Linked DNA regions of Homo sapiens: region 2 is linked to region 1. The links come from fine-mapping of genetic effects on gene expression. A gene starts in region 1. The other region holds a variant in brackets. All regions are shown on one strand. Distances are between the middles of the regions. Region 1 holds the start of CYP2R1 (cytochrome P450 family 2 subfamily R member 1). Region 2 has its middle 20 kb from the start of PSMA1.

Region 1 (2,500 bases):
TTTTGGACTTCTCACCTCAAGAATTGTAAGAAAATAAATTTGTGTGGTTTTAAGCCATCAGATTGGTGGTAATTTATTACAACAGTAGTAGGAAACAAATACACTTCTTTAGCAGTTGATCTCAGCTCCAATGTCATCTTCCTAATAAGACTTTCCTTGACAGCCCTTGCCTGCTAAAGTATCTCCCCAACCACCAGGCGTTTTCTATAACGCACTTTTTGTTTGCTTCTGATTATTGAAAATTATTGTATTTCCATGTCATTGCTCTTCCCTCTCATAAGAATGTAAGTTATAGAAAGGACTTTGTTGCTCTTATTCACCTATGTATCTCCATTGCTTAGGACATGGGAACATAGTAGACATTCAATAAATATTTGTTGTGTGAATGAGTCGTAAGCTAATGAGGACCATAAAACTCATGCCACTGCTAAATCACAATTAGAGGGCAGCTGTTAGAAGAGTCCCAAACCCAGTAAGTCCTGTATTGCAAGGAACTGCCCAATAGAAAACAGGAATAAAAACAATTAGCAAGAATAATATGAAATCAGTTGCTTAATTCCAGGCAGTGGAGGCAGAAATCTTGAATAGTAAATACTCTCCGTGAACAAGTGCAGACAAGAGTCCCGTGATTGCCAATAAGTAATCAGTTTGGAAAGACCAGAGAGGGGTCAAATATAGGTAAACTGAGTTAATCACATAAACTGCTCAATCATCACAATTATTAAAAGATCACACACAAAAATACATTAACAGGAGAAAAATAGTAAAACAGGACAAAACAGTAAAATTACTTTCTTTTACTACTGATGGGTCAATTTTCTACTGGAAATTCTGAAAAGTATCAGGTTCAGCTAAAGACTGCAGTGTTGATCATCTCTCCAGTTTTCCTAGTGTGAAATGAAATAAGCAGACCTGGTACTTAAAAAGACACTTTAAGAAAGGTCTGGCCCCAGAGAGGCAGGATCCGCCTAGCCCAGTGAGTGAGGCCGTCCTGACACCTCGTCAATGCCCTTGTGTCAACATTCTAGAAAACGGACTCCTGGCTCATTGCTCCGCCTAGAGCCGCGCCACCTCCAAAGGGTAGCACCGGCCACCCGCTCCGCAAAGTCCACTCTCAGCCGCGCAAAACTAGAAGGTAGTTGTCCCGAAGGGGCCTGAGCGCTCACTCAGTCAGCCAATGGCCACGGAGCTAGGGCGGGACCTGAGGGTATCCTGCCAATGGGAGTATGGCAGGGCTGGAGGGAGTGCCTGGGTCTCAGGGCTGCTGTGGAGTTCGCACCTCCAGCTCGGGCCGATGTGGAAGCTTTGGAGAGCTGAAGAGGGCGCGGCGGCGCTCGGCGGCGCGCTCTTCCTGCTGCTCTTCGCGCTAGGGGTCCGCCAGCTGCTGAAGCAGAGGCGGCCGATGGGCTTCCCCCCGGGGCCGCCGGGGCTGCCATTTATCGGCAACATCTATTCCCTGGCAGCCTCATCCGAGCTTCCCCATGTCTACATGAGAAAGCAGAGCCAGGTGTACGGAGAGGTACAGCCCCGACGGGCCCCGGGCAGGGAGGGCCGCCAGGCTGGCCCGGGCTGGCCAGGGCCTTCCTGGTTGGACTTATGGCCGCCCCTGGGCCGACTAGTCGGGACCTCTCCGTGTGCCGGCTGCCCTTTGAGGGACACCCGCTTCCCGGGTCTGGAAGGGAGAAGTCCTCGACGCCGTGCCCCCTTGCAGGGGGAGCCCCGCCCCTGCCGGTGACCCACTCCGGGCCGAGGCTCCGAGGCGATCCAGTCCTGATTTTCCCGCTACCGCTCGAGCTCTTGCTCCTGCGCCTGCGCCGTTTGGCTCGCCAGCCGCGCCGCCACTTCAGGTCCAGGGTGGACGCATGCCCTCAGGTGCGGGCGTCTTGCGAGTCGGCCTCGCAGCTCTGTGGAAGCTGCACGCGGCTTGTCGGAAAATCAAGGCGTTCTGAGTTCTAGATGGTTAATAGCAGGTTCTTCGGTGTCTGCAGTCGACGAACGACTGGTGTAGGCGTTTGCTGTGAGAATGGAGAATGCAGGGGAACGCCCCTGACTGAGAAGCGGGCCCTGGGAAACGATTGTGAACGCGTGAATGAATTGATGACTAAAATCCGCTGCGGGGGTCCTACAGCGCAGATGGTAATGCCGTTCTGACTGGCTGGGAACGGCACCTTAGCAGATACTTAAAAGGCGCCTTCTGTGTGCCACTGTCACTGCCAACTTGGTGACTCATTTAAAACTCATAACCAGCCGGTGAGGTCGGTACTTCGCTCCTCCTCATTCTGCGGAGGGGAAAGCAGCACGGAAATGCCCTGTGACTGGCAGCGGAAAAGGCGACCACCGCTTGTGTGTGGGTGTCCCGACGTCCGGAGGGGGCAGGAGTTTCCACGGGTCCTGGGACAGAGCTCACCTGTTTTGTTTTGAATTACACTTATTTATATGCAACTACAGGCCTGACGCTAGCGGTGAAGAAGGCAGATACAGCCTTTTAAGGAGTTGGCAG
Region 2 (3,027 bases), 350 kb after region 1:
TTCTCTTGAGCCAACTCAACTGGATGGCAGCCAATCTCTATCTCTTTCCTGGGCCAGAGCAGAGCTCCCCCAGTTCTGTGTGCGCCTGCACAAAGACGAATATGTTCTGTACAAATAGGGTCTAGTTTTACCTTAGGTGAATAGACTGAGCCTGGGGGTCAAGGGACAGAGGACAGAGAGGACCAAACTGGTGTTTGCTGCGTCAGAAGCATACAGGCTTATTTGGAAAGACTGAAACTAAATAAAGACTTCTTATTAGCATAGGACTAGAGTTGTGAAATCTGGTCAAAGGGTTTTATGCAAGGATGCCTTTTATATATTCTCATGTTAATGTGGAAAAGTAGAAAAATACAACATTTTAATTAGGGGAGAAAACTATTGTTATATATAACTTTAGAACATTTTTCTTTTTTTAAAAATTATGCTTTAAGTTCTAGGGTACATGTTCACAACGTGCAGGTTTGTTACATATGTATACATGTGCTATGTTGGTGTACTGCACCCATTAACTCGTCATTTACATTAGATATATCTCCGAATGCTATCCCTCCCTCCTCCCCCCACCCCACAACAGGCCCTGGTGTGTGATGTTCCCCTTCCTGTGTCCAAGTGTTAACTTTATAACATTTTTCATACCAGGAACTTTTTTTTCTTTTACACTAGAACATGGGAGTGATACTCCCAAGTTTTTGTCCCCCATCCCAAAATGACAGGGGAAGTAAAATTCTTTTCACAAAAAGTGTACCTTTTTTAAAAAGAACAGTAAGCCAGCATTAGATGACTTATTCTAAAACAATCTTCTTCTTTAACTGGGCTTTTCTGCAGATTTTCTAAGAGGAAAAGTTGATGTTTAACTCCACATGTTCCTTTTTTACGTTCACAATTTTTTTTCACATTTCCTTTCTGATAGGAGTAGTATTTTATTGTTGTGTGAAAACCCAATTGCAATCCATCAGGTATCAGCTTTTAGTAAGGTAGTATGTGTAGAACTGAAAAACAGACATTTACCTCCAGAAATGAAGGGCTTTTTTGATCTTTCTGCATTTAGGCGATCTCAGTTTATTTTCTGGAAGTGTGCGCTGAACCATAAGCAATATCGTATCTCTCCTGAGGACGTAATGTTTCCTAAAAGCCTGTCTAGTTCACTGTGTTTTTCAGAGGGAAAAATCCTGAGGACTGGATCCAACTGGGAGGAGTGTCACCCAGGGTGGCCTGAGACAACGTAGCTGGATGGAGAGTTCCAGTTTTCATCATCTTAGTTGCAAAAAGACAAGGTCACCCACAGAAGGCAACTTTGTGCATTTGTGGGCCAGGCAAATGCAGAGAGCAAGTAGGGAAGCTGAAAACAAGGGAGTGAAGATCTGAACAGAGCTGGGTGGGTAGAGAGGGTCAAGGGAAACATTTCAGTTCTGAAGCCACAAATGGAAACCCTGTGCCAGAGTGCCCCTTTTATGTTAGTGGTGGAGAGAGGTTCCTGCTGCTTAGAGTAGTCACGCAGCACTACAGGCTAAATGCTGCAAATCTATAGTGATA[T/C]CAGGTCTATTTTTATTCTCTCATTTATATGTTTCCTTTTTATCTTAGCCATATAGGATTTTTTTATCCTTTATCTTCCTCCTGTGGGTCCTGTTGTTGTTTTTTTTTTCTTTGTTTGTTTGTTTGAGACGGAGTCTCGCTCTGTCACCCAGGCTGGAGTGCAGTGGCGCAATCTCGGCTCACTGCAAGCTCCACCTCCCAGGTTCACGCCATTCTCCTGCCTCAGCCTCCTGAGTAGCTGGGACTATAGGCGCCTGCCACCACGCCCGGCTAATTCTGTTTTTGTATTTTTAGTAGAGACGGGGTTTCACCATGTTAGCCAGGATGGTCTCCATCTCCTGACTTCGTGATCCGCCCGTCTCGCCCTCCCAAAGTGCTGGGATTACAGGCGTGAGCCACCGCACCCGGCCCGTGGGTCCTGTTCTTAAGCTCCACTCTTTATAACTCTAGTTTGTTTTGGTTTTTAAAATTATTTTTTTCTTCCTTTTTTTCCTTTAAGAGCTTTCTAAAAGCTGGCACTTTGGTAGATTTCTTTTTTTTCTTTGTTCACGTAGTCTGATCTGGAAGCCAGGACTTTATGTTGGCCTGGATTTGTCAGGTCTCTAATCAACTCTGTGTAAAGTGGAATAGCTTGGCAACAGGCATAATAATAATAATTAAAAATAACAGTGACTGCAGAACTAAGACATGAGATTCAAAAATAAGGGGGAAAGTGACACAGAGTCATAGGCTTTCATCTGAAAATATCTCATTCCGGCCAACTGAGAAGCACCCTTGCAAATCAGTTAGAATATCTCTCTGTGTAGAAAAGGAAAGCCAGAGAGAAATGTTGCCTTCAAGTGTAGTTTGCCTGTGTATTACCTTCTGTTGAAATTCCCACAGACAAATAAGCCTTTGAGAACCCATAAGAAAACAATGGCTGCCACTAGTAAGATTTCCAAAGGTACTTTTAAAACATGGAGTAGATTTGTTTTTCTGTCCCAACGACTTCAGAGAAGTTCCCACTTAAATCCATGCATGGTCATTTTATATCTGCCATTACATATTCTTGTTTGCTAAATGTAAGTCTTGTCAATGAGTTATTTTAAAAAGTACTTTTTGAAATTACGCACACCCCAAACAACAGAACTGCTGTGTGTATACAAATGCTCTGGAAAGGCAGAAGTCAGGTACTGGGTGTAGGCACAGGACAGACCGCATGGTCTGCCTTGGCAGCCCTGTCCTCACCTGCAAGCTGCCCACACACACTCCCTTCCAAACGGTGCTCCCTCTGATGCCACTTGGCTGACTGAGCTACTGTGGGAGGAAGCCTGTGAAGGGGTTGGTGGTAGTGATGTGAATAAATATTTTATAAACTAAACTTCAAGTATAAAACTTGATTTACCCTTTCAACCAAATTCACATGGGAAGTCCCACTTCTTCTTAAAAATCTTGGACATTCAAGAGTTAAGGGATATGGAAGCTGGCGTAGCATGGGGCTGTCATCCAAGACCA

Evidence for each region. PIP is the estimated chance that this variant, and not a neighbour inherited with it, causes the effect. A credible set is the group of variants that fine-mapping cannot tell apart.
Region 2: its variant is the best candidate, but not a certain one, in a credible set for the expression of CYP2R1 in monocytes (TOPMed, PIP 0.65).

Annotation. Positions count from the first base shown.
Region 1 is chr11:14,891,000-14,893,499 of GRCh38, reverse strand. It overlaps CYP2R1 (cytochrome P450 family 2 subfamily R member 1), which reads left to right and starts at 1,269. Exons shown (of 5, transcript NM_024514.5): 1 at 1,269-1,519. The coding sequence starts at 1,295. It also overlaps a transcript of PDE3B not described here. RefSeq lists a silencer at 1,522-1,761.
Region 2 is chr11:14,538,480-14,541,506 of GRCh38, reverse strand. It overlaps a transcript of PSMA1 not described here. Among named protein-coding and RNA genes, the nearest start is that of PSMA1, 20 kb to the right of the region's middle. The variant T/C (reference allele first, on the strand shown) is at 1,534.